Regions from separate parts of the Homo sapiens genome. Here regions 1, 2 and 4 are each reported to be linked to region 3. The links are microRNA targets in miRTarBase. Many come from high-throughput screens and were not tested one by one. Region 3 holds a microRNA gene; each other region holds the end of a gene's coding sequence.
What was found. The annotated mature microRNA hsa-miR-3974 reads AAAGGUCAUUGUAAGGUUAAUGC and lies in region 3 at 4,067-4,089, opposite strand. An mRNA with a match to its seed (bases 2 to 7 or 8) in the 3' UTR can be bound and repressed. Matches are read on the target gene's strand: a 7mer-m8 pairs with bases 2 to 8, a 7mer-A1 pairs with bases 2 to 7 and ends in A, and an 8mer does both.

Region 1: the mRNA of ZNF264 is a reported target of hsa-miR-3974. Seed matches in the 3' UTR shown: 7mer-m8 at 4,001-4,007, 7mer-m8 at 1,300-1,306, 7mer-m8 at 1,062-1,068 and 7mer-m8 at 375-381.
Region 2: miRTarBase lists NLRP11 as a target of hsa-miR-3974. Seed matches in the 3' UTR shown: 7mer-m8 at 1,247-1,253.
Region 4: miRTarBase lists HUNK as a target of hsa-miR-3974. Seed matches in the 3' UTR shown: 7mer-m8 at 5,304-5,310.

Annotation. Positions count from the first base shown.
Region 1 is chr19:57,210,775-57,219,085 of GRCh38, reverse strand. It overlaps ZNF264 (zinc finger protein 264), which reads right to left. Exons shown (of 4, transcript NM_003417.5): 4 at 1-7,732. The coding sequence ends at 6,105. Among named protein-coding and RNA genes, the nearest start is that of AURKC, 16 kb to the left of the region's middle.
Region 2 is chr19:55,778,431-55,786,741 of GRCh38, reverse strand. NLRP11 (NLR family pyrin domain containing 11) reads left to right here. Exons shown (of 10, transcript NM_001394894.2): 10 at 871-1,343. The coding sequence ends at 1,117. It also overlaps the pseudogene RFPL4AP1. Among named protein-coding and RNA genes, the nearest start is that of RFPL4AL1, 13 kb to the right of the region's middle.
Region 3 is chr12:17,669,086-17,677,396 of GRCh38, reverse strand. MIR3974 (microRNA 3974) reads right to left here and starts at 4,098; the gene lies at 4,003-4,098. The region is part of intron 1 of LOC124902889 (a long non-coding RNA gene); the gene reads right to left. RefSeq lists an enhancer at 3,996-5,476.
Region 4 is chr21:31,997,831-32,006,141 of GRCh38, reverse strand. It overlaps HUNK (hormonally up-regulated Neu-associated kinase), which reads right to left. Exons shown (of 11, transcript NM_014586.2): 11 at 2,078-7,616. The coding sequence ends at 6,958. Among named protein-coding and RNA genes, the nearest start is that of LINC00159, 84 kb to the left of the region's middle.

The DNA.
Region 1 (8,311 bases), not on the chromosome of region 3:
GAATTTTACAAACATTCCATGGAGAACATGACTCTGAAAAATCTGCAGATCACTCTCAGTTGTAAGATCTGTTCATAGAAATATTGGTGTAGCACAACTCAGAAGACTGTGGGCTTTCTATTCCCCCAGATAGTTTAACATTTCTATTCAAATGTCAAGACAAACCACCAGAGAACCATGACTTTGGAATATAGTTGTCTATTCTCTGAGAGTCTTTCTTTGGCGTTAAAAAATAAGCAAAGAAACAGAAGGTGTACAAAAGAACCCACCCAATGGAAATTAAACAACTGGAAAATACAAAACCAAAATGAAAACTCACTGCACAAACTCAACAGATTAGGTATGACAAAGAAAACAATCAGTGAGGACCATGGAAGGTCAATAAAAATTAATCAATATTAACAAGACAGAAAATAGACTGGAAAAAGAAAAAAGATGAGAGCCTGAAGGACCCATGGGAGTGTAAAACAAGATCTGCCACTCATGTTATTGAAGTCCCTAAAAAAGACAAGACTGGGGGGTGAAAAAATATTTGAAGAAATAATAGTTGAAAGTTCCCCAAATTTTGCAAAAGGCATAATCCTACAGATCAAAAAGCTGGGCAAGCACCAGGGAGCGCCAAATAGAATACACCCAAAAACTTCCATGCCACGCACATCACAGCCAAACTTCTGAACACTAGAGACAATGAAAAACACTTTGAATGAAGCTTGACAGAACTGATGCATTGTAAAATAGGGAATGATTATTTGAATGCTAGTAGGTTTCTTATATTAAACAATAATGTACAGAACAGAGAGATACATCTCTGAAGTCTAAAAGAAAACAACTGCCAACTCTGAATCTTATATTCCACAAAAATATTCTTTGGGAATGAAGGAAACATAAAGACATCTTTAGAGGAAGGAAAACAAAGAACATTTGTTACTCTAGAAGAAAGGCTACAGTAAAGTTCAGTGTATAACTGAAAAGAAATGTTAATAGAAGGTTTGGGATTTCAAGAAAGAAGAATGAACAATGGAATGGGTAAAGAGGTCGACAGGCCAAGGTTGGCGGATCACAAGGTCAGGAGTTTGAGACCAGCCTGAGCAACATGGTGAAACCCCGTCTCTACTAAAAATACAAAATTAGCTGGGTGTGGCGGCGCACACCTGTAATCCCAGCTACTCAGGAGGCTGAGGCAGGAGAATCGCTTGAACCCAGGAGGCGGAGGTTGCAGTGAGCCAAGATCGTGCCACTGCACTCCAGCCTGGGTGACAGAGTGAGACTCTGTCTCTTTAAAAAAAAAAAAAAAAAAAAAAGGTCAAGAGACAATGTTTCTCATGACGTTTTGTAAAATACGTGTGAGAGATAAAGTAAAAATTACATCTTGTGGCCGGGTGCAGTGGCTCACACCTGTAACCCCAGCACTTTGGGGGGCCGAGGCGGGTGGATCATGAGGTCAAGAGTTCAAGACCAACCTGGCCAAGATGGTGAAACCCCGTCTCTACTAAAAATACAAAAATTAGCCAGGCGTGGTGGCGGGCGCCTGTAATCCATTACTAGGGAAGCTGAGGCAGTTAATTGCTTGAACCCGGGAGGCAGAGGTTGCAGAGAGCCGAGATCGCATCACAGCACTCCAGCGTGGGTGACAGAGTGAGACTTGGTCTCAAAAAAAAGGAAAAGAAAAATTACATCTTGCAACATAGCGCTCAATTTTTGAAGAGGAATTACTATTACTTAAGATAGTTACATTAGTAGGTAAGCTAAAGGAACCTAATGGAAGTAAAGTGCTAAATTGCTGATAACTTATTAAACTGTCATAAGTTATATATTTACACTGTAATAGTAGAACAATCACTAAAAAATGCAGATATATACAGACAGTCCCTGACTTAGGATGGTTCGACTTACTACTTGACTTTACAATGGTGCGAATGCGACATGCATTCAGTAGAAACCACACTTGAATTTTTATTTAAAATTCTTTGCAGTAACTTTATTATAAAGTAGGCCTTGTGTTAGATGATTTTGCCCAACTGCAGGCTAATGTAAATTTTCTGAGCATTCTGAAGGCAAGATCGGCTATGATGTTCAGCAGGGTAGGTGTATTAAATGCATATTTGACATAGTATTTTCAACTTGCAATGGGTTTATTGTGACATAACCCCATCATAAGTCAAGGAGGATCTATACTAAAAAACACTACATATGTATCAAATCAAATTATTAAAAAAAAAAAAGGTGAAGTAACCTATAGGAAGACTAGTAAACAACCCCAAATAACAGAGGAACAATAAAAAAGAACACAAAAATCATTTAAGGGCACACTTAAGCCCTAAAATATCAATAATTATTTTAATGTAAATCATTTCAACATACCAATTAAGAGAGACATATGCAGAATGAATAAAAAAAGCATGGCCTGAGTATATGCTGTTCAAAGAAACTGACTTCATAAGTAATGATACAGGTAAGCTTTAAAATAAAATGAAGAAATATTAACCATGCAAACATTAATCAAAATATGCAGGAGTCACTATGAGAACATCAGGTAAAGTATTGACAAGACTATTAAAAGGCAAAAAAATGACATCACATAATGACAGAAGAGTCAATTCACCACAAAGACTTGGCAAACCTACATGTATATGTACCAAACAATACAGCTTTGAACTTTGCAAACAAAAAGTGATAGAACTTGAAAGAGCAACACACTTCCACAATCATGTTCAGGACTTTTTGTTGTTGTTGTTGAGACAGAGTCTCGCTCTGTTGCCCAGGCTGGAGTGCAGTGGTGAGATCTCAGCTCACTGCAACCTCTGCCTCCCACGTTCAACTGATCCTCCTGCCTCAGCCCCCCAGCAGCTGGGATTACAGGCACACGCCACCATGCCTGGCTAATTTTTGTATTTTTAGTAGACAGGGTTTTGCCATGTTGGCCAGGCTGGTCTCGAACTCCTGGCCTCAGGTGATCCACCTGCCTTAGTGGTCTCAAAGTGCTAGGATTACAGGCGTGAGCCACTGCACCCGGCCTATGTTCAGGACTTCAACACCCCTCTCAGCAACTGACAGAAATGCTGGACAGAAAATCAGCAAGGACATAGCTGACTTGAATAACAATGAGCAGGATCATAGAGACATTTATAGAAACTCCACCCAGTAACAGCAGAACACCCATTCTTTTCAAGCAGCTATACGAAACAAGATAGACCCTATCCTGGGTCATAAAAAAATGTTAACACATTTAAACAGTCAGATCAAACATGGAACAAATTAGAAATCAGTAACAAATATGCCAAACACCAGAAAATTAAGCATACTATTAAATAATTCATGGCTAAGAGAGAATGTCTCAAAAAATAAAAACTATTAGAATTAAAATGTAATGAAAACATTAAAACTTGTGGGATCAAACCAATAGTGATATGAGGTAAATTTATACAATGTAATGCTTACATTAAAAAAGCAAAAAAATCTCAAATCAATAATCTAAAACCCCACCTTGAAAAGTTAGAAAGAGCCAAATACAACCAAAGCAAGTGGAATATAATACCGATCAGAGCAGAAATCAAAGAAATCAAGAATAGAGACAAATCATTAATATAAAGTGCTAGTTCTCTGAAGTGAGAGATGAAGCAAAAATTACATCTTTCAGCATGATGCGCAATAAAACTGATAAATGTCTAAGAAGACTCAATCATAAAATGAGTATGCACATTTTAAATATTAAAAATAAAAAGAAGTGCAGATCCTGCTATCAAAAGAATAAGGGAGTGCTACAAATACAGATGAAATATTCCTTCAACAGGACAGACTATCAAAATTTATTACACAAGAAATAGATACTTCGAATAGTTCTACCTATCCAATAAAATAAATATGTAATTTAAAAGCCTCCAGAAGAAAAATCTCTGGCCCAATGGTTGACTAGAGGTCATCAAACATGACAAGAACAAATAACACCAATTCTACACAGTCTTCCAAAAATTAGAAGAGAACTCCTTCCAATTCATGTTGAAAGGTCAAGATCACCTAGACATCAAAACCACACATAAGACATTTAGAACATAAGAAACAAAAGAAAAAAGAACTACACATTATTAGCCAATAAATTAGAGGAATATTTCCTCAACAAAATACAAACAAAGGGAATGATGTCAAATGATATATAAAAACAATTATACTCTACAAACAAGTATGGTTTATTCTAAGGATGCAAGGCTGGCTCAATATTCAAAACTTGATCAAAGCAATACATTCCATCAATAGGATGTAGAAGGAAAATAGCATAATGACATCAACTGGTGGAGAAAAAGTACTGAACAAAATTCCACACTTATTCATAGCAACACAGAGTCTCAGAAAACTGGGAACAGAGGAAATTTTTTACCCTTATAGAGGACATATGTTTTATAAAACTTACATTATACTTCATGATGAAAAACTGAACATGCTGTGCACTGTGGCTCACGCCTGTAATCCCAGCACTTTGGGAGACCCAGGCAAGCAGGTTGCTTGAGCCCAGGAGTTCAAGACCAGCCTGGGCACCATGGTGAAACCCTGTCTCTACCAAAAAATACAAAAATTAGCTGGGACTGGTGGTGCATGCTTGTAGTACCAGCTACTGGGGGGTGGTGAGGGCTGAGGTGGGGGGATCACTTGAGCCCAGGAACTTAAGGCTATGGTGAGACAAGATCGTGCCACTGCACTCCAGCCTGGGTGACAGAGCGAGACCCTGTCTCAAACAAAAAACAAAAAAACAAAAAACTGAACATTGTCCCCCCTACTATCAGGAACCAGGTAAGGATGGCCTTTCTCACTATTCCTATTCAACGCTATAATGGAAGTCCCAGCTTGTGCAATGCAATAAGACAAACAAAAAGGAAATAAAAGGTATATTACAGGTAAGATGAAAGATAAAAAATGGTCTGTATTTGCAGATGACATTTCTATATAGAAAATTCCAAGGATTCTGTCGAAAGAAATAGCTAAAAATAATAAGTGAACTCAATAAGGTTGCAGGGTAGCAAAACAATGTCCAAAAATATTATATTTCTGTATACTACCAAAAATTGTGTGCAATTCAAAGTTCAAACATCAATGCCATTTACAATCACTCAAATTACACACACACACAAACAAAAAAGCACCCTAGGATGCAAATTCTAACAAAAATGCATAGGGATCTATACGCTGAAAATTTTTAACATTAATGAAATACTTTAAGGAATGCTTAACTATTATAAATTAAGAGGCCTACTCCTGCACTCATGAACTACAAGACCCAACATAGTAAAGATACCAATTCTTAACAGATTAATCCACAGACTTAACTCAATTTCTGTAAAAATCTGAACAAGACTGTTTTGTAAATAAGTACAAACTAATCCTAAAAATTATATGGAATGTCAAAGGAACTAGAAATGCTGTCGATTTTAAATAAGAGCAAAGAAGAATCACTTTACTCAATTTAAAAATTTACCACTGACATTTTGAGCTAAGTAATTTTTAAAAATTTAACAAATAAAAATTTACCATATGGCTACAATGATGACGTAAACCAAAAGACGGGCATCAAGACAAAAGCCTGAATGTTAACATGTGTATCCTTACTGACTTAAACGTGAGTATTTCATGGCTCAAGCCCCCTAAGTTGTCATAAAGTTATGCTTCTCAAGAGTAAGTACTATTGTGGAATACAGAAGATGTGCGATTAAAGTTTGCATACTTTTCCTAAACTAACTGTTCTGACACTGGATAGCAATAAATGTACATACAAGCACATAAAGGGTCAAGGTTCTTTACCTTGAAACATTTCCCTTCCCCCAAATACACTAAGAAATCCATGACAAAGCGCCATAGGCTTGGCAGAGAAGCCTGAAAAGATGTGTGCTTGCATTTCATTTTTTCTATGTCCCCTCCTCCTTTTAAAAATAATTCCTGAGATAAAATTGCACTGTAAACTAAGGAGAAAGATGCAGCTGAAGGTTCTCCTATGTGCACAATAACCACTGGGTCTCTCTCCAGGATAAATTATCAGATGGAGAATAAGGCTCTAGACTGAACGAATTTCTAATATGACTCTTCAGATGACAAGTAATATTCAGCAACAGAAGGTTTTCTCACAGTGAAGACACTTGTGGGGTTTCTCTTTGGTATGGTTGATCAGATGCAGAGGAAGATGTTTCCTCTGGCAAAATATTTGCCTCAGTGGTTACATTCAAAAAGTCCTTCCCTAAAAGAAGTTCTCGAAGGGTAACTGAGGTTTGTCCACTTGTAAAAGGTCTTCCCACATCTGTTACACTGATGGGATTTTTCCCAGTATGCATCCTTTGATGCTGAGTGAGGGACGAGCTGCGACTGAAGGCCTTTCCACATTCACTACATTTATAGGGCTTCTCTCCAGTGTGGATAATGGCATGTCGAATGAGGTTTGTGCTCCAGCAAAACGATTTCCCACACTCAACACATTCATAGGGCTTCTCTCCACTATGAATCCGCTTGTGCCTCGTGAGGCCCGACATGCGGGTGAAGGCCTTTCCACACTCCACGCACTCATAGGGCTTCTCTCCAGTGTGGATGCTGAAGTGGCGAATGAGGTCCTTCCGATTGCTAAAGGCTTTCCCACACTCTTTGCACTCGAAAGGCTTTTCTCCAGTGTGGGCCCTTTTATGCAAGATAAAAGTAGAGCAGTGGGTGAAGGCCTTTCCACATTCACTGCACACGAAGGGCTTCTCCCCAGTGTGAATCCGCTGGTGCCTCTTGAGGTAGGATCGGTGGTTGAAAGCCTTCCCACACTCGAGGCACTCAAAGGGCTTCTCTCCAGTGTGGATGACATAGTGGTGAATCAGGGCTGCACTCTCCAAGAAGACCTTCCCACATTCACTGCACTCATAGGGCTTCTCCCCGGTATGAGTCTGCTGGTGCCACATGAGATATGACCTGTGTTTGAAGACCTTGCCACACTCCAAGCACTCATAGGGATTCTCACCACTGTGGACAACATAGTGCCGGAGAAAGCCTGGCCTATGTCGAAAGACTTGGCCACATTCTGTGCACACAAAGGATTTTTCTCCAGTGTGTCTCCTGTTATGCAAGACAAAATTGGAGCGGTGGGTGAAGGCCTTTCCGCATTCATTGCACTTGTAAGGCTTCTCTCCACTGTGAATCCGCTGGTGCTGGGTAAGGTATGACTTGCGGTTGAAGGCCTTTCCACACTCCATGCACTCATAGGGCCTCTCCCCAGTGTGGATCATGTGATGTTGCAGGAGATGTGTGCTCTTAATAAAGGTTTTCCCACATTCTGTGCATTCATAGGGCTTAACTCCAGAGTGAATTTTCTCATGTCCAGCAAGGAGGTGTTTCTTGTTAAATACTTTTCCACATTCACTGCATTTAAAGTTATTTTCCTCTTCCTGAATCATGGGATCTTTACCTGACTCACATGAGTTATGGCTACGGACTCTATCTCCTGGAGAGACTTGCTCCTGTCCAATCCTTGAACACACACCATCAGCTGTCCCTAAACCATCACATTCAGGGCTCATCTTCCCAGGAGACTTCTCCTGGGGATCTATTCCTGGTCTGAAGTGTCCTTCCTGCATTTCTGATAGCCCATCCTGATCCTCGGCTTGCCCCAACTGTGAGTCCACTGAGTTTCCTTGTGTCACTTGTCCCTGAAGTGAGATTCCCTCTGACAAGGCTGGCTCACAAGTGGTAGGTTCTGTGGTCTTAGGTTTTCCTTTGTCGCCTGAAAGAAATCCAGCACACAAAAGGGCCTGTTAGTAAAGGACAACATGGAAAAAAGAATATTACCATTTCTGTGAAAAACCATAGATAAAAATATTGCCTCTGTGTTGCTATTTTCTGTATCTCAAATTCTTGGGTTTGCAATTTCTTTCTATCCTGGTCCTTGGACTCGGGATATTCTGCATGGGAGACCTAGGGGCAGAGGCTGGGTCAGGAGACAATGCGTCTGTTCGTGGAGCCACCTTCACAATTACAGATTGGACCTGGGTAGACAGAGTAACGACGACACCGTGCATGGTAAGCTTCCTGTAAGCAACTAAGCAAGGACATGCTGTGTTGCTACAAGAACACGAGGAAGGAGCACCTAATGAGCCCACATGGAAGACAGGAAGTGAGTAACAAAAATTAATCCCCAAAGAGAAGTACGCTTTTCCTGTGAAGTCATGGAAAGTAACCTGTAAACACTGAGTAGTTCCAAAATGTTTTTACTTATGGTGGGACCCAATGGCCCTATCTGACAGTTTATGCAAACGGGGAACTCACTATGGAGTCCTCCACAGTTTATCCTGAAGAGATGACT
Region 2 (8,311 bases), not on the chromosome of region 3:
CTTCAGTATTATAGGTGCTCAAAAAAAACTAAACTGCAGAAATGACCATATTTCAGGTTATAAAGGTATTTGTGCCTACATGCTAATTGGGACACTCACATGCAGAGAGGGCACAAAATAAGTGGCTGAATCCTCCTCTTTGATTTGGAGAAAGAAACATGAGCATGGGCTGCGGTGTAAGTGTGCCTCTGTTCTCTAGCTATGTAAATTTTTTTTTTTTCTAGTTAGGGTCTTGCTCTGTCACTCAGGCTGGAGAGCAGTGGTGTGATCATGGCTCACTGCAGCCTTGACCTCCCAGGTGCAAGTAATCCACCTCAGCCTCCCAAATAGCTGGGACCACAGGCACGCACCACCACACCCGGCTAAGTTTTTGTATCTTTGGTAGAGATGGGGTTTTGGCATGTTGTCCAGGCTGGTCTCAAACTCCTGAGCTCAAGTGATCTGCCTGCCTCAGCCTCCCAAAGTGCTGGGATTAGACGTGGGACTGGACTGCGTCCAGCCTGTAAACATATTTTAGTTGGAAACTTTGACCCTCAGTATTGGAACCTATAAAGTCTTGAATGCCATTACCCATTGTGAGGATGTAATGTGAGATGCATGTAAAGCATTGAGCACGTAGTGGCGTTGGTTACTACTAATATTACTTCAAACAGTTCTCCCAGTGGAAATCTTGTCTTACATTCTAATATTTAATGGAGAAATCGCTATCTCACGGTTTTCAGTCTGGAACAGATTTTTGTTTCCTCAGAGATGGCTTGAGATACTCCCAAGAATACCCAAAGGATGCCATATGGGGAATTAGTCATTGATGCAACAAAGCTGAGACCTCACATGTAGCATTAACGGCGTTCTCTCTCTGTTTTCCTTCAGGCTTCCATTAACTGGCCTGAACACACAAACCCAGCAGTTGCTGATGACTGTAAAGGAAAGAAAACCCAGTTTGATCTTTCTGTCTGAAACTTGGTCTTTAAAGGAAGGCAGAGAAATTGGTGTGACACCTGCTTCTCAGCCAGGTTCAATAATACCTAATTCTAATTTGGATTACATGTTTTTCAAATTTCCCAGAATGTCTGCAGCCATGAGAACGTCAAATACAGCATCTAGGCAACCCCTTTGATCATGTTGTACGTAAACAGTATTTATTATAAATTACTACCGTGACTGGGATGCAAGAGAATTAGGACTATAATTTTCCTATTTGATGTGTGTGTGTGTGTGTGTGTGTGTGTGTGTGTGTGTGTGTGTGTGACCTTGATCCAGTCAACCACTTCAAATTCCTACACTGTCTCAAGAGTATTAAAAGGATTATATGAAGTAATAAAGGATAAAATGCATTGGAAAAAGCTGTGAAGCATGATTGTTTCATCAGTGGGCACGGTGGAGTAACACTAAAGAAACTATGATCCTTTCATGGTTTGTTTCTTGTTTTTGTTTTTCTGGGTTTTGTTTTTGTTTTTGTTTTTGTTTTTGTTTTGGTCTAGGGAGAGTTGTTAGAAGGTGTCCCTAGGAATCCTTCGAAATGAAATCCTCATCTCACCTTCCCTCCTGACTTCGTATTCCTGCTGCACCATGTTCTTCCCGGATCTACCTAACACCGTAACTGGCATTCATTTCCGTATCTCCCCTGCTCTTAGCCAGCTCCGCTCACAAACTTGTGTGTGTTCCATGGGATGAAGGGTGACTTCTCTAAGCTGTGGAGAAATGTCAGATATGTGTGGCCTCAGAAAAAGCGTCTCCTTTTCACCTTCTTTCAGAAGAGGGAGTTGAACTGGGCATCCTCTGATAATGTTTCCAACCCTGACACTGTATTTACAATGCCCCATTGCTAAGCATCTGGTTGCTGTACCTAATAGGCCTCCATAGGTGAGAGGATACCTACTCAAGGTGGGTAGGTTTTAGGGTCTTTACGTGCTGAAAAAAAAATTTTTTTTTTTTTGTTTGAGATGGAGTCTCGCTCTGCTGCCCAGGCTGGAGTGCAGTGGTGTGATCTCAGCTCACTGCAGCCTTCTGCCTCCCGGGTTCAAGTGATTCTCCTGCCTCAGCCTCCTGAGTAGCTGGGACTACAGGCGCCCACCACCATGCCCAGCTAATTTTTGTATTTTTAGTGGAAATGGGGTTTCACCATGTTGGCCAGGGTGGTCTGGATCGCCTGACCTCAAGTGATCCTTGGCTCAGTTTCTAAGGAGAACTGTCCTAATTTCTCCCTTTGACAGTGTTTCTAGGACACAGGGGTATACAGTAAACCTGAGCTTTCTGGTCCCACATTGAGCCAGGAGCTCAAGCCAAGCACCTGGCTTAATGTGCCACTGTCTTGGTCCAGCCGGGGCATGGATGGTGTGGCTCAGAGCCAGGCAGGGGTAAACCTATTTTGCCCAATGCTATTGCTCACCCTCAGCTCTGAGCTCTTCTCCTGTTTGAGATCTTTATGTTCTGCCTTTTGCTCTAAATGTACAGAAGCACTCACTGGGGTGGTCTTGGCAACAAGCTCTGTACAGGGATGTGTCAGTCACCATAAGCTGGGGCACCTGAGTCCTTAGTTAGAGACAGGCTCCTGGACCTGATCTCCCCACAGAGATGTCACGATCATGTCATCTGTAGTATCTCTCAGTGACATTGCCTCAGTGAGTCTGGGGCTTCTCTGATGAGAATATTTGATTCCCAATGCAAAACCTCCTCAGCCACTTCTGATAAATGCAACTTCTGGACATGATGTGAAGATTCTGATGATTAGCAGAATAACTGGCTAAAAGTGTTTTCTATGTTCCTTTTCAAAACTCTGATTTCAGAATCAAGTCATAATCAGCTGTGGAAAGAAACCTTGAAGGTGAATCAAAGGATCTTACTGTAGTTTCAACTGGGCTTGTTCTTTGATTTTTCTGACATGTTTCTAAAATAAGATAATTTTTTTTTGAGACAGGATCTCACTCTGTCGCCCAGGCTGGCATGCAGTGGCACGATCACAACTCACTGCAGCCTCGACTTCCTGAGCTCAAGTGATTCTCCCACCTCAACCTCCCCAGTAGCTGAGACCACAGATGCATGCAACCATACCCCCCTAATTTTTTGTACTTTTAGTAGAGAAGGGGTCTCACCATATTGCCTAGGCTGGTCTTGAGTGATCCGTCCAACTCAGCCTCTGAAAGTGCTGGGATTACAGGTGTGAGCCACTGCACCCGGCCAGGCTATCACAATTTAAGGAAACCTCTTGTTTTCCCATGACTGAAAATTCTGAAGTCATTGAAGCCATCTTCCCACCTCAATATTGCATATCTTCAATGTCCACATACTCCATGGCATATTGTAATTTGTCATCCAGGTTACCTATATAGCCCTGCCTCCTGTGCCTCTCCTTGGAGAAACAGACTTCCCTTCTTTATTCTAGATAATTTGCACTGAGAGGAAGCATTCCTACAAATAGACAAAAGCCCTATTTAGAGCATATAGAGCAATAATATCAGAATTTTAAAATTCTGTTTAAAATTAATGGAGTGATCTCACTGCAAGTTTCAAGGTAGGGAATTTTAAAAGTAGTCTTTGGTAAAACAAAAATTAAACTGGGAAATAACTGTCAAAATCAGCCTTTGTGGAAAATTTGAATCTAATAATTTACAACCTCCAGGGGAACCGTGAGTGAAGGAAGAAGCTGCTTAATTTCAGGAAGAGAGTTGTGGCTTTTTTTTTTTTTTTTTTTTTGTGGAATCTTGTTCTATCACCAGGCCAGAGTGCAGTGGCATGATCTCGACTCACTGCAAGCCCCTTCTTCCGGGTTCAAGCGATTCTCCTGCCTCAGCCTCCCGAGTAGCTGGGATTACAGGCACCCACCACCACGCCCAGCTAATTTTTGTATCTTTAGTGGAGATGGGGTTTCACCATGTTGGCCAGGGTGGTCTGGATCTCCTGACCTGGTGATCCGCCCGTTTCGGCCTCCTAAAGCGCGGGGATTACAGGCGTGAGCCACTGCACCCAGCTGAGTTGTGGTAATTTGACTCACCCACCTACTCTTCCCCACTCTGCAGCTTGATGGCTGCTGAGAACATGGAGTCCCTCATTCCCAGGCCAGCACGCTGATGCCACAGGATGAAGAATCTTTGTTCTCAAAGAATTGTGGTTGTGTGCCTCCATCTATCTTAGTGGTTCCTTGAAGGGTTGGCTCAAGGGCTTGCCTTTATTTCACCCTTTTTAGATCTACACAGACTGAAGCTGATTTATTGGGGGGTGCCAGTGTCATTAAAAGCACTTAAAGACAAATACACTTGCTGAAGTTGCCTGGGTGAGGGATAACAGGGAAAACAGATGACAGAATGAAAAGCCTATTAAGGAAGAGTCTGGGGGGAGAATTACATGAGATAGTAAGGGCTTTGAATAGCACTGAGGTATACCAAGGATTGAGTTCAATCATACATGTCCATGCAAGATTATAAAAATCTGAGAAACCCTATGTTTTACCTCTGATGATCCCGAGGCTCCATGCAAGCAGGAAATGAAGGCTGAAATGAGAGTTGTAAAAATCCTGGCTAGTGAACCTGGGAGGTGGAGGTTGCAGTGAGCCGAGATCGCGCCACTGCCCTCCAGCCTGGGCGACAGAGCTAGACTCCGTCTAAAAAAAAAAAAAAAAATCAAAATCCTGGCTAAGCTCCCTAGAGGGATCCCATGGCAAAGAGCTTGAGAGAATTTTGGGTTTGCGTTCAGGCATGTTTTAAAAATCTCCATCAAATTGTTAGTAGACCAGAAGGCAGAGACTTCAGTGGCCACACAGGAGAAAGTGAAACCTTTACACAGTAGTTTACAAAGGTTCAAACAAAACAAAAAATGAAAACAAAAACAGAAGACTCCAACTCACAACCAGCAGCAACAAGAAAGCCTGCTCAGGGGTGAGAATTTGATGTCCAGGGTTTGCCACACACAGTGTCCACTTTTTCTTACCAAAACAATGAGGCACACACACAAGACAGTATAATAGTCGTAAGAAAAAATAGCATATGAGCAAGCCAAGACATTGGGCTTCCTCTCCAAATACTAAATTAATTATCTTAAATATGTGCAAAGAACTCAAGAAAATCAAGGGCAGAAGAACAAAAATAAACCAGAGGAATAACTCCTCATCAAATAGAGAACATGAATAAAGAGAAAGTTTAAGAAGGAACCAGTGAGCAATTTAGGGGCAATAAAGTACAACAACTGAAAGGAAAATTCACAAGAGAGTTTCAACAGAACTATTTTTTATTAAAAAATTTTTTTGAGATCTCACTGAGGTAAAACGGAACATCTTGAGCATGTAAAGTTTGATTCTTGTTTTGTTTAAATTATCAGAATAATTGTATGTAATGATTGTGTATGTCATGGTGTTTTGCAATGTAGATGCGTTACCAAACGGGTAAATCTAGTTAGGTAATATATGCATTTCCTCGAAAAGTTGTCATGTTTTTTATGAAAACACTGAAAATTGCCTCCCTTAGCATTTTTCAAGAATATTATTATTAACTATTGTTGCCATGTTGTATTTATTTCTCCTGTCTAGCTGAAATTGTGTGTATCTTGGCCAACCATTCCCTAACCCTCCCACCTCACTGCCCCAGCCCCAGCCCCAGCCCCAGCCCCGGCCCCTGGTAACCCCATTTTGCTCTCTAGTTCTTTTTTTTCCTTCTTTTTTTGAGACGGAATTTCACTCTGTACCCCAGGCTGGAGTGCAATGGTGCAATCTCAGCTCACTGTAACCTCCACCTCCCGGGTTCAAGCGATTCTCTTGCCTCAGCCTCCCGAGTAGCTGGGATTACAGGCGTGCACCACCATGCCTGGCTAGTTCTTGTATTTTTAGTAGAGACGGGGTTTCACCATGTTGGCCGGGCTGGTCTTGAACTGACCTCAGGTGACCCGCCCGCCTCGGCCTCCCAAAGTGCTGGGATTACAGGTGTCAGCCACTGCATCCGGTCTTGCTCTCTAGTTCTGTGAGATCACTTTTTAAAATTCTCCAAGTGAATGAGATCACGTGATATCTCTCTTTCTGTGGCTGTATGTTTCACTAAGCATAGTGTATTCCAGGTTCATTTCTGTAGATGCAAATGACAGAACTTTCTTCTTTTCTATGGATAATACTATTCCATTGTGTATATATGTTACATTTTCTTTTCTGTTTTTGAAGATAGGGTCTCACTCTGTAGCCCAGGCTGGAGTGCAGTGGCATGATCATGGCTCATGGCTCCCTGCAGCCTCAACTTCCTGGGGCTCAAGCAATCCTCCCACCTCAGCCTCCTAAGTGGCTGAAACCACAGGTGCAAACCAACACACCCAGCTAATTTTTTTATTATTATTTTTGTAGAGATGGGGTTTTGCTTTGTTGCCTAGGCTGGTCTCAAACTCCTGAGTCCAAGCAATCCTCCCTTCTCGGCCTCCCGAAGTGCTGGGATTACAGGCTTGAGCCATCACGATGGGCTCTGTCTCTTCTTTCTCTGCCTCTCTTGATTTTGCCCTGTCTTCCTTTTCTCTTGCTTACTCATTGTTTTAATTCACCCCTTCCTCACTCCTTCACTGTAGCTGAAGATTTACTACTTTGATCCTGAAAAAACGTGTCTTGAATTTTTAAAATTTTATTTAACATTTATCCATTTTCTATTTCATTGACTACTACTGTAGTCTTTGTTTTGTTTTGTTTTTTACCTAATTTGCCACTGCATTTGCTCACTTAAAAATGGAAGCTAGACCGGCCGGGCACGGTGGCTTGCTCCTGTAATCCCAGCACTTTGGGAGGCTGAGGCGGGCGGATCACGAGGTCAGGAGATCGAGACCATCCTGGCTAACATGCTGAAACCCTGTCTCTACTAAAAAAAAACAAAAATACACAAAATTAACCAGACGTAGTGGCGGGCGCCTGTGGTCCCAGCTACTTGGGAGGCTGAGGCAGGAGAATGGCGTGAACCCGGGAGGCGGAGCTTGCAGTGAGCCGAGATCGCGCCACTGCACTCCAGCCTGGGCGACAGAGCAAGACTCTGTCTCAAAAAAAAAAAAAAAAAAAAAAAAAGGAAGCTAGATCATGGATGAGGGTATTTTCCTTGATTTTATAAGTGTCTATTTCTATAAATTTCCCTCTAAACCTCAACTACATCTGCACATTTTGTGATATTGTGCATTTACTTTCACTCAGTGTAAGGTATTTTATAATTTCCTTTATAAGTTCACCTTTGATTTGTGTTTTATTTTAAAGTGGTTGTTTAATTTTCATGTATGTGGAGATTTTACAGATTTCTTCTTGTTACTGATTTATAATTTAATTCTGTTGGCATTTGAGAACAGCGTGTATATTATTTCAATTTTCATGTCAATGTGATTTGTCTTATGGCCACATCTGTCTATGCTAGCGAATGTTCAATGTATACTGGAGATGAATGTGTGTTTTCCAGTTGTTGGGTAAAACTGAACAAATACAGGCAGATACTTTTATCAGTTTAACAGGCAGTGTTTCCTTGTCATTTAGTAAGTGAATTAATTTTGGGGGTCAATTTATATTATTATAGTTTATAACCTCCATAACACATTTACTTGATCTTACAGCAAAGCAAAAGAAAAACATTTGCAAATTCATCTGAAAATGTTAAACGTTTATTGTGAAAGAAACATAAGCATGAGTTACCAAAAAATGACACTGCTTTATATTTCATATGCAATTTTTCATCAGCAATACAAGTAGAGCTCAGAATTCCTTGAAAGACCCACATTCTTCTTCCATAACTTTGAACCATAAGTGGACCAAGCGGAGAAGTTCTCGCCTTTGGTCACGAGCACACAGCCACTTACTGTGGATGTTTTCTGTGTTCAAGTGTATAGTTGCCTTGCCCAGGATAAATTGGGGAACTGGCAATGCCATTATTAATTACACACACACACTCAAGTATCCGTGATCATCACGACTTGTATCTGCATGAGCAAAACATGGGCGCAGTGGCTCAGTAGCAGAAATTTTCGTGAATGTGAAGATATGTGACCTATCACTGACATTATAGAAGGAAATGGCCCTCGTTTTTATATCCAGGTAAATCCCCACTCGGTGTAGACCTGAGCTCACCCAGAGACCCGTCACAGGCTTAGTGCTGGCAAAGTAGATCTGTCCTTGTCTCAAACCCACAGTCCAGAAGCCGAGTTCTGAAGAGAGTACAACGTTCCCCTGTCGGTTCACAGATTCCTTGCACACGCCCACATCCCACACTTGGCTGGTGCCCACGCCCACCTCCCAGTAATGGCGGCCGGAAGTGAAGCGAGGGGTGCCCAGGACGCACAGGGCAGTGTCGAACCTCTCAGCTTGCTCCTTCCTATTCTGTCT
Region 3 (8,311 bases):
AAAAATATATACACTATTTTGTTGAAATAAATCTTTCTTTTCTACTTCCAGAAACATCATGAGATTACACAGCCTGATTTATAAAAGAATTTGGAGCAAGCTTCAGACTTTAAACATTCAAAACTGAGGTTTGTTTATTTCATTTTCTACTTACTGAAAGAAGAGTTTCTAGCCTGAACTAAAGGCCTGTGCTTTATGTACTTGAGGTACTGGAGTGCTATATGTACTAACTAAATTGTGACCCTATTTTACCACTGGTGACCCGAGTGAGGATTCAAACTTTCTTCATGTTTTTATTTTTAACATAAATATAAAAATGCTGAGCTGTAGAAAATATTGAATACACATGGATTTAACCTCAAGAAGCTCCGTAAAATTCTTAGATGACATTATAAAAACAAGAAGCAGTTAAACCTAAAGCATCCTCCTTAACATAATTTGAGAAAAATAAAATGTTCATATCTTATATAAGATACCCATAACTCCTTGTTAAAACACTAAAATGAGTAAGAAATATGCACTGACCAATTTAAAACTTTATTTTTTTTCTATTGATGATCATCAGATAACTTGGTTAAATTTGTTAAATAAAACAGATACACTAGTTAGTAATTATTGATGGGTATGCTACTTTTGGCATGACTAAAAGTTTGCTATTAAAGAGAAGGTTCCTAACAGGAAGGGCAAAACACACTAAGACATAATCAACTCAAATTAGAAAACTCTCTTCCACTGGAAAAAAAAAAAAACATAGACTTTTGGTCACCCTAACTATATGTTACAACGTTTATAGTTTAGTGCTTTTAATATGAAAAATGACTAATATTTGTATGAAACTTTTCAACAGTTATTTCAAATGTTATTCCTCAAAAAATATCAATTTGTAACAGCATTATCTTTATTTAAAAAACTCACATTCAAAGAGACTAAACTTTTTATATCTAGTAAGTCACATATCTGATAGTTGATGGAGAGAAATCTGAATGCCACTTCTTTGACAATAAATCCTGTGACCTGTCTGGTGCCCAATTAATTTGGATGCCTCTGAAGCCTTTATTTCAGACCTATTTATTATTAATTTACCCCCTAAAAACTCAAACTATTTTAATTTGCATCTAAAACCTATGACAAATTTCAAGACACTGAATATACCCAACTCTGGGAGATGTAGAGATGAGTCTGCTAAGGTCCTTCTTCAGAAAATAATTTGCTCCCCATCTTGAAAATCTGCACAGTTCTGTATCTGACAAGCACATGGCCATATACATGTGTGGCCATATGTCCCCATGTAGGGAATGTTGATAATGGGTGAATGAATGTATAGCAGTTGGACGTTTTCCTCCTTCCATTTTGAATTCCTCTCTTCCCTTCACAGTAGTTACTCCCTAATATACATCTAGCATCCCAAACTGTGTCTCAGAATCTGCTTCCATAACATCAGGACCAACTACATCATCTGTGGGGCCAGTGCAAGGAGGAATCCCAGGGACCCCTTTTAATAAAGCATCTGACTGCATGTTTTTATGTTTAATTACTCACAGCTTTCAAGCCCCATAGTGGGACAAGCCCATAAGAAAGCTGTCACTCCCTTCTTTGTCACCAGATGAGAATGATCAAACCAGGCTAATCCAGCTCCTATGCAGAGGCTCTCCTCCCAGCATGTCTGAATCACAACAGAAACCAAAGCCATATTCCCCTCATTCACTCAAGCCATTTTGAACCTGCTTGGGAGTCTACCCTGCTGTCCCCAGAAACCCTCATAATGAGAGTAATACCTTCTCATACTCTGTCTGCGCGTGTGTCAACATCTAAACCTATCCTGCCTTTTGCAGGACGCTACCAAAACACCCTTGTTCCAAAATATTAAAAGTCCCAAGACTGCAGCAGCAGAGGATTGAACCAAATGCAAGGCCATTCTTAGCGTGGGATCCTGTGTACCTATACAGGTCACAAACATGGAGCCAGCCCTAGGTAAACCCAACCTCCAGCATCAGCTATCCCTTGTCTTTTCGTTAATTTTGTGATCTCAGTTGGGGAAGCATAATTCATAGTATTCATTTTTGGGGAGTCTGTTGTAGCACTCTTATACGTACAGTTGCTTTTCCACTTTTCTCTTTTCTTGGTGTTTAACGCTGTGCTTCCACACTCGATTTTATGAGTTCTTGTAATTTCCCCAGTCTTATTACTAGCCCCTGTCTAAGAAAGCCCTCCAAGTGGAAGAGATGATTGACTTATCATTCATGTATTCCATTCCCCCAAGTATAAAGGGATATCTATCATAGTTATTTATGGCACTTATGTGTGTGCATTGTCCTACCCTCACCACCCTCCTTACACCGTCTAAATTCTACATTCTTACATACCATTTTGTGCAAACATTGCCAATAATTGTGCCCTTCTTTCACTTTATTATCCTCTCCTTGCAAAACTCTCATCAAGTTTAGTTGTATTCGCTGGTACTCTGAACCTGGACATGGCTCACTGTCTCAGTTTAAAGTCATAAACATTAGTTTCGAGACCGACGTTGCTAAAAACCAAATTCTAGTTTCATTATTGACACTTTTCTTTCTCTCATAACATATATCTGATCAGCTATCAAATTATTTTACTTTAATTTCAAAACATATCAAATTTGGCTTTCAATATCCAAAATGATCCCCTGATTCAATCCACTCTCATCTTTTGATGGGATGATCTTTAAAGCTCCTTAACTAGTCTCTCTGCTTCATCTCTTTAACCCCATTAGCAGATTTTAAGTCCAGACGTCAGTTATAATTTTTAAGCCTAAGTAGACTTATGTCCCTTCTTTTTTGAAATATTCATATGGCCTTCATCTCACAAATTAAAAAAGGTGAAAGTTTCTGCAAGAGCCTAAAGGTAACATGTAACCTGGAGCCCAATACTTTTTTGAACAAATATGCAAATACTCTAACTTTCTTTCCTTCTTTCCAACCACTCACTTTCACATTGCTCCTCAAACAAGCCAAGCATGCTCTTGCCTCAGAGTCTTTGTACTTGCCTGCTCTTCCTGGGGTACCTGATACCCTTGAGTAATGCTTGCCAATCTTTGGTCAAATGTCACTTTCTCAAAGAGTCCTTCTAAGATCACTCAAATTAAGATAGTAACCCTTTTTCTGATTCCTAATCATCAATTCCCATATTACTCCTGAGTTTTCCTCTTGCTTGTAGTATTTTAAAGTTTCTATCATTAGTATCTATAGTTACTTATATATAGTATCTATATATACTATAGAGAGAGACATTGGAATAGAGGTAAACTTATTTATTCTGTCTATTGTATGTCTCTCCTGTCAGTGGAATAAAAGTTTCATGATAGCAAGAATCTTTACATGTCCGGAGCACAGCAAATACTCAATAAATAATTATGAATTAATTAATCAAGGTATAACTACTGATAGGGCTCTTATAAAATATTCTTAAAGCTTTTTACAAGTTCTAACAATCTAAGACACAATTGACATTATATTAGTGACTTGTTAAAGATTCCTTGCAAGGACAAATGCAAAGATTGAAGTATATATGAATGACTGAAGAGGTAGAAAATGCAAATAATGTTTGAAATATGAAAAAATACATGTTAATAAAATAATTCAAAGTGCAGACATTTTATAAGCAGATGATATGTAATACTTTCAAGACCAATATAAAGCTAAGTGGAAAACAACAACATAGTCTGAATTTGGTGAAAAATACGGGCCAAAATACTGATGGGTTACAATTGGTCCATCATGGCTTTGGCTTGTCATGATCCTAGGATATTAGCTGAGAAGGCAGCTTGTGATTTCTTCAGGAAGCTACTCTAACTTACGAGATGTATGTGTATGCCTGTGTATGTATGTGTGTTTAAACAAGGAGTGGGCAATTTATTGCAAAGTGAAATGGATAATTTTGCACTTTTGTTATTAGGTTAAGAGGCCAAATCTAGTCCACTTTTTAGAAATACCTCCTCTCGTTTCATGTTGTTTAAGCTTTCTTCTTAATGTTTTGGCAGGGGTACGGAAAGGCTGTAGTCAAATTTGTCATAGTTTGATATTAAAATATGGGTGCATTAACCTTACAATGACCTTTTCCCTGAACTTATTCCTAGAAAAAAAGATGCTGCATCTTTTGTAAGTAACTTCAAGGCAAGATATCATACAGCATTCAAATATAAGCTTTTATCCAGTTAATCATCAAGCATTACCTACTTTCATCAATGTTCAGGAGCTTAATTCCAGGATTACTTATTCCAAAAAAAAGCTAAATACAAAAATCAGAAGCACAGACCCAAACAATAGAACTTTTATACCATGATAATTAGAAAAGGAACCTATTACCCAGGATTATAATTAGTGACTAACATATTAAATGACCTTTAACATTTACCTTAAGCCCTGGATTTCTGGAAAACCAGCAAGGTTATGAATGCCATATTAGTGATCTTTAATCTTTATTACTGCTGTGGACAGAATTTTAATGATTTTTAAATAGGCAGTGGTCACTAACATATCCCTATTAAAATAAAAAAAAACTCATAAAAAATTAAATGGATTAAGACTTCAAATGTACCATCATCAAAAGTATTATCTAATTATGGAGTTCAGTGAACAGGCCAAGTGAAATGGTTGGTAATATTAGTTACTTGCCACATGGGAATGCCCAGGATTTATGCACAAATAGATTCTGCTTCTGTTGCAACACAGTAATTAAGAATTTGTCAGGGAAATTTGACCCTCTAGGGTAGAAATTACTTTGTAAAATAAGAATGGCAGAGCACTAGTCTCCTTGCTGCACATAATTTAACTTGATTATTTATACATCAAAGAGAGTCTGCAGTGACTGCAGTATAATATTTAAGTAGAGGGATATTAAAGAAAGAAGCACCTAGTGAAATCTTTTTTCCAAATCTCCGTGAGAAAATAGAAGAAATTTTCATAAAGCATTTCATTTTGCATATAAATTGGAGCCTAGATTGTGCCTGTGAATTTACTGCTGTCAAATTTAATTTTTCTTTAATTCTTCAGACCCAGATGTGAAAGGCTCTGTGTGCAGGCTGCAATTTTCAATGCTTACAGGTAGCTCCCGGATCGATAATGTGTCTTTATGAGAAATTACCATTAATGTTATTGAGTATGCATTTTGTTTTGTAGGATAATAAGGTAATATGAAATGCCAATTCATTCATTAGAAGAGAGCTAAGTGCTTAAATGAAATGGGTGACAGGTCTGAAAAAGAGATGTAGTAATGGGCAGGAAGGCAAGAATGGATTTTTAATGACCTAATATGTAAAAGTTAACCATGTTTTTGCATTTTCTCTTTATACATGATGTAATCTATAATATAAAGAAGTTTATTTAAATTGGAGAATGTGTCTTGGCTAAAAACCCTCTGCAAAAGTGAATAAATAGATATCAACTAGGTTTCAGAACATTTTTCTAATGAGTTAGTTTTACTGAGAACACAGCACCTAAATCAATTAAAAACAAACATTGCCATATGAAATCAATGCTATAAAAATCATCAGTTAATATTAGAATGTCACAAACAAGACCAAATTTGATATATATTTAAGATCTCTGTTTTTGAAGTATGGTGATAAGAAAAACTAATCCTGAACTTAATGCAAGGGCACAATGCAAGAACAGAACATTTGGGAAACTATGTTCAAAGTCATTGGAGATTAGACTAAAAAATGACTTTAAAAAATCAGTTAAACTGAATGTGAATGTTAGCATCGCTATTAATAACTTTTTATTTTGCCACTTAGGAAAACAAGTTTCACACCTTCTTCAGTAAAATAGTTCTGATTCAGCCCTGTGCTGTTAAGCTGAGGGGCATTCTAATTATCTAGAAAGTTGGATGGACTCGTTAATTTGATGCCTGTGATTTTATAAAGCACCAGTAGGCACTCTACAAGAAAAGCTTTGAGTAACTCAGTTCAACAAGGCTTTTGGAAAAAATACAAACAAACATATCTATGCTATTACATAATTTGAACTCAAATTACTTGCTTCTGACATCTTATTTAACTATATGTAATTCTGAAACCAATTTAAACTCATTGGTGGGCTGAACACAGTTTTATGAACAAAATGTTATTAGGCCAAATATCTTCAAAATGAAAAGGACACTAACATCTTTGAAGATGTTCCCAAATCAAACACTTAGGTCCAAAACAACCAATCAGGAATATTCAGTTATAAACAAAACAAAGTAAATAGAACAAATGATTATCAAAATTATGTTGATTCTCTTATAAATTAAAACAGTATAAACTTGAATAAAGCAAAAATGCATCCCTATTTCATTACTTGAGAAGTCAAATTGTGCAGGATGATATGGACTAATAAAAGTACAGAAGCTCTGAAGTCAGAAAACCTGTGGTCAAATCCCAGCTCTCATACCCACTAGTGGTTTAAACATAAATTATGTAACCTCTCCAAATCACTTGCTTTGTCATAAAATGGACACAAAAATACCTAACTCATCACAGCCGACAGCCATACGTTGAAGTTGAACTGAAATCTGTCTATATCTGAACCTTAAGTGCTGATGTCGCACGCTTTAAGCACTGATGTCTCAGGTTTTAAGCACAACCTCTTGTCTTGATCACTCTCACTTATCTGGCCATAAACAGCTTTACAGAAACAACCAGTTCTGGATTCCACCCCACCTCCCTCTTTCAGCTGAGCTAGACATTTCCAGGCTTGATGTCTTCGCTCCTCAGCCTGGGTCCTGTTGTTGCTGATTATCTGAACTATTTTGTCAATAACCTCAATGCCTTACATCCTTACCTTTACAGACATCTGACAGATAAAATGTCAATCTTGAGTTAATTCCATTATCCACTTTCTCTACTCTAATGCAGAGGCTTGACGCTGCTAGAGAAATGCCATCATTTAAACATTCATATGTCCACAAATTTGTACATTCGATCCTAGTCAATTTCTCAGGTCTTTGGCCTTCTCAATCAGTTGTTCCTTCCACTTCTTTCAGCAATTGTTCTACCTTTATTCTCAAGGCTTCTCCACTCTCTCAACCTTACTCTTAATAAACAAACTTCTATATTATTAGGGAATCTGATTTCATAAAACATGAATTACTGGCTCTTCTGTCCCCCTCACCTTCTGATTTTCTATACCCACCCTTACCTTCTGAGAGGATTATATACTTCTCTTCTTTATGACCAACCATCAAGCAGACATCTGTTCTTTATTTTCTAAATGTCCTTCAGAGCTTTGTTTCATCCGTTGCAATTGTTTCTTCCCTTACCATGGTTTTTCCTTTATCTTGGCTTTACCCTTGCTTTCAAACACATATAATCTTTCTAAGCAATCCCTTATCCCAGGAAAGAATAGAATTAGAAATACATTTACTTGAAAGTTAAACTGTTTTATTTGTGTTGATTCCTCTCTTCCCTTTACCTGCACTTTTCTTGAAATAAGATACTTTTTCCTTACTTCCCATTCATTTTTTAATAGCCTGTAACTTTTTTCACTGTCTCTATCATTTCCCTGAAACTATTTTATCAGAGTAGCCAGTGATTTCCTAATTACCCACTGGAATTTAAAAGAAAAAACCTTAACCTACTAGAAAAGTGACAATATCAGTCTGTTTTTGGTTTTTGTTTGTTTTTGTAATCAAGAAACAAAATTTTTTGACTTTTTTTTTCCCTCAATCTCCAATGAGTTCTGCCCTTCTGCCCACTCCTTAAATGTTCCTCAAGATTGATCTCTGGTTATTCTCACTCCACACACACTCCATGGAGATCCCTTTTCCAATTTTCTAGTTTCAGCTGCAAACTAATGTTTATGACTCCCCTTTGTGTATTTCTAGTACCAATATCTGCAATGAAGTTCAGATATCTATATCCAACTGCCTGCTAAATATTTTCAAAACTGTCTCAAAATTGTCATAAGTTTGCTTTTCCCCATTAATTGTTCCTGCCTGTGTAATACTTGCCTCTCATAAAACCATTGTCCAAATATAAATATGGGCTGTAAATATCATTTTCTTTTCCTTACTCCAACTTCCAGGTAATCGCCTACTAAATTTATCACTAAGTTGTTTATACATATATAACCTTTCCTCAAACCACACTGTCATTCTCCTAGTTTAGATCCTCCTCATTCCCAATTTAACTAATGGGTGCTAGTTGTAGTCTTTGCCTGTGGTATTTCTTCCTCCAATTTTACAAAGTTACCATTAATATCCCATATAAAATAAGATCTGGACGGGTGTGGTGGCTCGTACCTGTAATCACAGCATTTTGGAAGGCCGAGGCTGGAGGATTGCTTGAGTCCAGGAGTTT
Region 4 (8,311 bases), not on the chromosome of region 3:
TGAGCCGAGATCGCGCCACTGCACTCCAGCCTGGGTGACAGAGTGAGACTCTGCTTCGAAAAGGAAAGAAAAGAAAAGGAGAGGAGAGGAGAGGGTGGAATTTCACTCCAAAAAAGAGAAATTTTCTGGGAGTGATTTAGTCAGAAAAGGATAAATGGAAATTTGGCATATGGGGCAAAACATATGAGATTCCTAGAAGATGTAAATTTTACTATCTGACCTTTTCCCCGTGTTAGTCGGCCTGGGCTACTGTAATGAAATACCTCACCGGGATCTAAGCAACAGACATTTATATCCTCCCAGTTCTGGAGGATGGAAGTCTGAGATCAAGGTTTTAGCAGAGCTGGTTCGTCTTGAAGCTTCACTCCTGAGGCTGCCTTCTCTGTGTCCTCACCTGGTCTTTCCTCCGTCTGGTGTCCCATTGTGTATCCATATCTCACATTTTTTTTTGTTTTTGTTTTTTTGTTTTTTTTGAGATGGAGTCTCGCACTGTCGCCCAGGCTGGAGTGCCAGTGGCGCGATCTTGGCTCACTGCAACCTCTGCCTCCCAGCTTCAAGCGATTCTCCTGCCTCAGCCTCCCAAGTAGCTGGGATTACAGGCACCTGCCACCACGCCCAGCTAATTTTTTGTATTTTTAGTAGAGACGGGGTTCCACTATGTTGGCCAGGCTGGTCTCAAACACCTGACCTCATGATCCGCCCACCTCAGCCTCTCAAAGTGCTGGGATTACAGGCATGAGCCACCACGCCCAGCCCAGACCTCACATTTTTATAAGGGCACTTGTCAGATTTGATTAGGTTCCTCCCTAAAGGCTTCATTTTAACTTACTCACCTCTTTAAATGCCCTATCTCTAAGTAGTCACATTCTGAGGTACTGGGGCTGAGGGTTTCAACATATGAATTTGTGGAGGAAAGAATTCAGCCCAAAACACTCTCCTTAAATATTAACATTTACCAATGCTAATTCTTTTATTTTAAAAAAGTAACTCTTTACTAAGAGGTGCTATAATTGTGTGACAATGGGAAAAGGCTAGTCCAGTTTTGGGGTACCTTTAAATGGTAGGCATCTCGGCCAGGCACGGTGGCTCATGCCTGTAATCCTGGAACTTTGGGAGTCCAAGGCGGGCATATCACTTGAGGTCAGGAGTCCAAGACCGGCCTGGCCAACACGGTGAAACCCTCGTCTCTACTAAAAATACAAACATTAGCTGGGCATGGTGGCATGTGCCTATAGTCTCAGCTACTCAGGAGGCTGAGGCACAAGAATCGCTTGAACCCAGGAGGTGGAGGTTGCAGTGAACCGAGATTGCGCCACTGCATTCCAGCCTGGGTGACAGAGGGAGACTCCATCTCAAAACAAAAGCAAAAACAAAAACAAAGAACAAATAAATGGCAGGCAGCTGTACCTTCCCTAAGATGGGAGAAACATTAGCTGCATCCCAAGTAGCCCTATGCTCCTGTATTTCCCAGCCTCTTGCTCACAGACAAGGCAGTGTGACCAGTTCCAGTCAATGGGCTGTGGGAGAAGTGATGAGTCCCCTCATAGAATGTTTAAGGGCTGGTGGAAAACTCTCCAGCCGTGCCTTCCTGTGCTGGAGCAGCCAAAGACGTTTCATTTTGAGGGGACACAGCCACAAGTTGGATGTAGCCTGGATCCCTGAGTCACCATATGGAAGACAGCCGTTTTGTGGTCAGCCCAGCCTCATAAAAATATTTTAAGAAATAAACCTTTATTGGGCAAGTCACAGAGATTTGGAATTAATTTGTGATCATAGCAAAGCCTAATCTTCTAGCATACTGGTTGCCAGAGGAGGTGAGCACTGAACACTGATGAAGGAGTCAGGGGAAGGCATTCTCATCTCAGATCTGCCAAGAACTTCACTGCCCTACTTTCGGCAAGAAGACTTGTTCCCAATATAGGCTTGCAATTTGCCCTTTCCAGCTGGCTATGGTAACAAGACTAGAAAGAACACATTTTTAAAAAAAATTATAGAGTTTAAATGTAAACCAAAGCCTTTGCTTTCAAAATTGCTAATAGCCCATCTTCCAAGTAGGAAATACAAAGAGCTGAGGCCCTGAAGTCAGACCCATTTATTTTTTTCACCTGTAAATGATACAGCTTCCTGTGCCATCTTTAAGTTTTAAACCACTCAACTCCAATTGATCCTCAAGTTTGCTCCACATAAAGCTATTCTATCCTTCCAAAATTGGTTGCCCCAAATGCCTCATTATTGGAACACCACCAGCTCAGATGTGGATACATGTGGAGGGGGACTGCAAATCCTGAAATGCTCCTCACCTTCTCTTCCAAAGCCTCCTCAGCTTTCTCCCCCAACCTCAGTCCCTTAGTGCCCACAGACGTCAACTCCTAGAGATAACTGTGTGTCACAAAAACATGTCCACAGAGAAGAAGTACAAATATATATCCTATTTGTCTTTGCAACCAGATGTCTGGAAAGCTCCCTTAACAGAAAAGCTGCCACAAATAATATACTCATTTACTACTCAGGAAATGCACTCCCTTCATTGAAAAGTGATGACATGAAATTGAACCAACTCCCAGTACCGCTCTGAATTATTCTTACTGTGCCTGTAGCTCACAGAAGACCCCACAAAGAAAATAAATACACTAACCAACAGGCTTCCAGACTCCCCCAAAAGATAGCAGTTTTGCATTCTTTCTGAATTTGCTTCAGTGTATGATATGGCTCTATAGGAAATGTTTTATTGATTTAATCTAGTAAAACCCAATAGCCTCTTAATACCTAAAGTAGATAACAAGGCTATCCAGGGGTTTGCTGCTTACTTGGGAAGTCAACTGAGAAAGACAGAGTTCCCAAAGAAAGCTGTCTTTCCCCAGCTTCAAGAGTGGATGGGACAAACAGCATAAGGTTCAGGAAGCTGCACAGTTTTGAAAAGGACTTAAAAATGCAAGACCTAGTCCCTGCAGGAACTTCAGAAATACCTGTTGTGATGACGGCTTGATCTGTTGTTGACATCCCCCTCTGACCATGGCAGCCACTCTCTGATTTCTCTGTGTTCTTTGAGGGAGAAACTCTGCTCCAGACCAGCTCAAATGCCAGCTCATCTGGGGACTCTGGGGTGTCCTTAAACCATCTGGGTCCCTAGTTTTCCCTTCTTCAGAAAGGCTGGGGCTGAGCCAGAGAATCTTAGGTCCTTTTCTATTCTAAAGTGTTGGGATTCTTACAAGAAAACATTGTCATCAAAACTAGATACTTGTTCTTTTCCCCGGAATCCGACTACTGGGGCTTTGCACAGTGAACAGTGAGCTTCTCCACTTTCTAGCTATGTCACCCTCTAAGGCTTCGTCCCCTCACTTCCCAGGGGAAACAAGGTGGTATATATGAAAAACGTTTTGTGAACAGTTATGAAGGAAGCAGTAACTGGGACAATTTCAAGAGGTCATCTAGATCCCACCCTCCCATTCCATCCCATCATCCCTCTTCCCCTATCCATGACCAAGGCCTCCTACAAGGACAAAATCTAGAAGTCACGTTCATAACTGCCATTCTTTGTGTGCCATTTTCAGAGTCTCCAAGGAAGATCCTAATATCCCCAAATGAAAAAGGTTGATTCTTCTTGAACTGCCACCTGCAGTGTGTATGTCAGAAAGACTTTTGTAGGCACACCTATTGCAGGTAAAATAAGGCAGGGAAACTGGCCCAGAAAATGCCCCCCAATGCAATTCCCGCTTGTTTCCAGTCAGATGCTAGGTCAAGAGCTTTACATAAGGCCAGGCACAGTGGCTCACGCCTGTAATCTCAGCACTTTGGGAGGCCAAGGTGGGCAGATCGTTGGAGCCCAGGAGTTTGAGATCAGCCTGAGCAACATGGCGAAACCCCATTTCTACAAAATACAAAAAAAATTAGCTAGGCATTGTGGTGCACAACTGTAGTCCCAGCTACTTGGGAGGCTGAGATGGGAGGATCACTTGAATCTGGAGAGGTTGAGGCTGCAGTGAACTGTGATTGTGCCACTGCACTCCAGCCTGGGTGACAGAGCAAGACCCTGTCTCAAAAAAAGAAAAAGAACTTCACATAAAAGATGGTACCTGTACTATTATTTGCAACGTACTTAGTTGTTTTAAGATTTATCAGCAAATAAAGAAGCAGTCGTAGTGAGGGAAAAGTGTATTTCACAGTCATTACAAAAGTACATATATCTAATAATGGTGACATAAATATAGTCCTTACTTATGACCAAATCATACAATTAAAATGGACATTTCCTCCTAGACTTCACACAATGACAGTCCAGTCAATTTCTGTCAGTAACTACAGGGTGACTGGAATCACAGGCACAGACTGAGGAAGACAGTCACGGTCGAACAGACAACATGCTTCGGACTTACCAAAGGGAGAGTCGAGCTTTCCATATAAATATAATAAAATAATAAAGAATCTAACATTTCTCCTTTCACTCGGTTTCATAGATTTGTCAGGTGCTCACACACACACACACACACAAATACAGCTGATCCCCTTTCATCACTCCCCCTCACCTCTCACTGGGTTTAGAATAAACCTGAGTTCAGAGTCCAGGTCGCCAATGGCAACGCGGTCAGTTAGCGGCACATGTGCAGCTGTTCTTGAAGCCTGCCAGGAATAAGAAGCACGTTCTCCACAAGCTAACGGCAAGGCGGAAGTACCCCTGCTCTCAAGGAAAATGCATCAGGGGTTCCAGCAAGTTCCCAATGCGCAGGTATACACCCTGCAAGCCTGCAAAGTGGAGCCGTTGCAGCTGGAAACCGTCTTTAGAAAAGGTACACTTCATGTCGAATGGAGAGATGGTCTTAGATGATTATTTTCTTCTCTCTGCTTATAAAGCTCTATTTTCTTTTTTTGGAGACAGGGTCTCACTTTGCCACCTAAGCTGGAGTGCAGTAGCATGATCTTGGCTCACTGCAGCCTCGACCTCCTAGGTTCAAGTGATCCTCCCACCTCAGTCCCCGAAGTAGCTGGGACTACAGGCACGTACCACCACACCCAGCTATTTTTTTTTGTATTTTTCGGTAGAGACGGGCTTTCACCATGTTGCCCAGGCTGCTCTCGAACTCCTGAGCTCAAGCGATCCACCTGCCTCGGCCTCCCAAAGTGCTGGGATTACAGGTGTGAGCCACCACACCTGGCCTAAAAGCTCTGTTTTCAATGGTAAGTTCTGGAACCCAGTCTGAAGCTATACAAAAAATAACACCAATGGCCAAGGGGTCTGACCTCATCCTAGAATGCCCTAGAGCCGTGGTGATCCCCTAGGGAAGAAACAGGCAGCTCCAGGTCTCACCAAGGTCAGCCAAATATCCATTCTGTCCCGCTCTGTCAGAGATGTGAGGGACTGAAGGATGTCACCACTGGTGAATGAGAGAATGATTCAGAACTGCCTCTCTGCCTTCTGGCAAGGCTGCCTGCCAGGGAAATAAAGGCTGGCTTTGCAATTCTAGATTTGTGTTTTGGGATCCTTGGACTGAGATGACTATCTGAGGTGGCCACAGAGGTGGTCTCTGGTCACACCTGCACCGGTCAAAAGTTGAAGACTCCAGGCCATTCTGTAACTGGTCTCCTACACTAACCCCTATCCAACCTGTGCTGATGGGTCTTCTTTTTCTGATTCTTCTCACCAATGACTGCACCCTGTCAAGTGCCAGCTGGATACAGTCAGACAACACGGCTGTCCACAAAACACACACAGGGGCACAGACACAATACTGGAGACACATCTTTGGTTCGATCCTTGGAGAAAGGTGTGAAAACACAACGTGGACTGAACCCTGTTTGAGGAGCTTGGCTTTCCTCGAAGAAGAAACTGGCCTGTATCTGAACAGGTTCTCTGCCAGGCAAGCCTGCTCCCAGCTCCCAGCAAACTCGCCGAGCTCTGAGCCGCACCAGTTCTGTGGGCAGCTTGAAATCAGCATCGCACAGAGATAATGCTGCCTTCTCGCCATCTGAGTTATGCTCTGAATTGTCACAATCATCTTTTCCCTCTTTCTACAGAACCAGCTGTAACCGTGTTCTATGCCTTCCAGAAGGATCAGGGCTATGCCTTAAACAACAGGATGAACACAGGGCCACCGAGACTTGCCCTGCCTGTGGGCCACAGCACTCAGCAAATCACCACAGTCAGCTTTTTTGCTCTCCACACTGAACCCTCCTGTGAAAACATGAGTTTGGTGGAATTGCTTCTCATCTCTCCATCCAAGTTTTAAAAAATTATGTTATTTCAATTTACCGACATCACATTTAAAAAAAATCTTTGGAAAAGATAATTCAATCATTAGCATGTTTCAACAACAACAACAACAAAAATCTATCAAAATCTTGCTTGGGAAATGAGTGTCTCCTTCAGTCTTTCTCTTCTGTTGGGGTCCCCACTGTTTGGTTTGATCTTGGTCCGAAGCTCCTCTCCATCTTCCTCTGAGGATCCTGGGCCTGCCCCCGGCTCCTGCTGGCCTTCAGGTAATCCCTGCTATGAAAGGCAGGGCTGCTACACTCCGCAGAGGAAACGTGGCCTGGATGAATGACTGTGATATTGTTCTCTCCCTGTAACTGTGGCCAACTGCTGTGAGAGGCACACATGTAGCACAGCGTGAAGAAAGATCTGGTAACAGTCCATAATCTGAGTGCCCCAGAAGGCTCATGCCCTGTTTTCCCCCCAAGCCTGGGGGAAGTGGGAAGTGGAAGGGGTTGGTGAGTACTTGGGAGGAAGGAAGATCTGAATGATAGGAATTGGCTGCCCCTGGAGCCAACCCTCCTAGCGATTCCAGCATCTCTGGGGGTCCCTAAGCGAGGTTGGGTTGTGCAGGCTTTGGGTCTGTGGATTCAGCTACAGGTGGGACTAAGGATGCTCCACGCGAGGCCTTGGAGTGCTCACACCCTGACAGATGTGTGGAGCTCTGTTCAGTTGCTGTTTTCTAGAGATACCCCAAACCCCGCTGGCCCAAGTTAGCACTGGGTCTTGACCCCATCGGCCATGTCAAAGGCAAGGTTCACAGGGGCTAGGGGCTGCAGTGGGGGCAGGCTGGCCTCCAGGGGCCTATCTGCAGATGGCTGCAGACTCTGATGGCGCTTCCTTAACATCTGTCCGATGCCCATCATAGGGAACCGGCCTCGGCTTTTCACACAATTGGGGCTCCCCAGAGGCTGCATGGGGCCATTGCTGGGAACCGGAGGTGGGCAACACAGGCCCTCCTCTTTTGGGGGGCTGTTCTTATCTTCGTGAGCAAAAGAGACCAGAGTTGGATGCAAAGGAGTATGGAGAGGCGACATGCTTCCGGATGGCAGACCCGGGGACAGCGTCCTCTCGCTGGAATTTCTGCGAGCCAAGCTGACCGGGGAGTTCAGAATCCTGTAGTGATGAGAGGGAGACAGCACTTCTACGTGGTCGTCGCGATCCACAGACTCGAAGGAGCGCACCATGTCCAGCATCAGGGGGTCTTCCTTGTGGGGGATGCCAGTGCTTCCGGGCCCTGGCTGATGGGGCTCCGGTTTCTTCACAATCCTCGGGGTCCTGGGCGGTGGCACGGGGATGAACTCCATGGAAGAAGAAGCCACACAATTGGAATCTGAGGTTTTGCGGAAAATATTGCGGCAGCCAAAGGAATCTGCACACCAAGAAAGCATAAACAATCATGAGGACGTCCGGACAGTGCTCACGGCCCTTCTCCTGCCTGCTGTGACCTCCAGCTTAACTGAGACAGTTCCCGCCAAGGTCAGAAGAAACCAACCGGCAAACAGCCTTGGCTACTTTGCAAAAGTCACCAGCAGCATGTCACTCTCCCCACAGAGGTCGGGCAGTCTTCCTAGGATGGAGGGACAGAGGGCTGGCGACAGGACGTCTCCTGGATTCCAATTTGCCTCATGGCCCCAGCCTAACATCGTCCCTGCTTTTGGTTGCTTAAAATTCTGGACCCTAGGCAGCGGTGGCTCACGCCTGTGATCCCAGCACTTTGGGAGGCCAAGGTGGGAGGACTGCTTGAGCCCAGGAATTCAAGACCAGCGTGAGCAATATGGCAAGACCCCGTCTCTAAAAAAATTTTAAAAAATTAGCAGGGTGTGGTGGCATGCACCTGTGGTCCTAACTACTTGGGAGGCTGAGGTGGGAGGATCACCTGAGCCTGGGAAGTGGAGGCTGCAGTGAGCCGTGATGGCACTACTGCACTGCAGCCTGGGTGACAGAGTGAGACTCTGTCTCAAAAAAAGAAAAAAAAGAAAAAAAAATTCTGGACCTTGCCAAAGGATCTTGGAATAAAAAAGGTACATGCACTCAACAGCACATCCATAAAACTCCCAGAAGCAC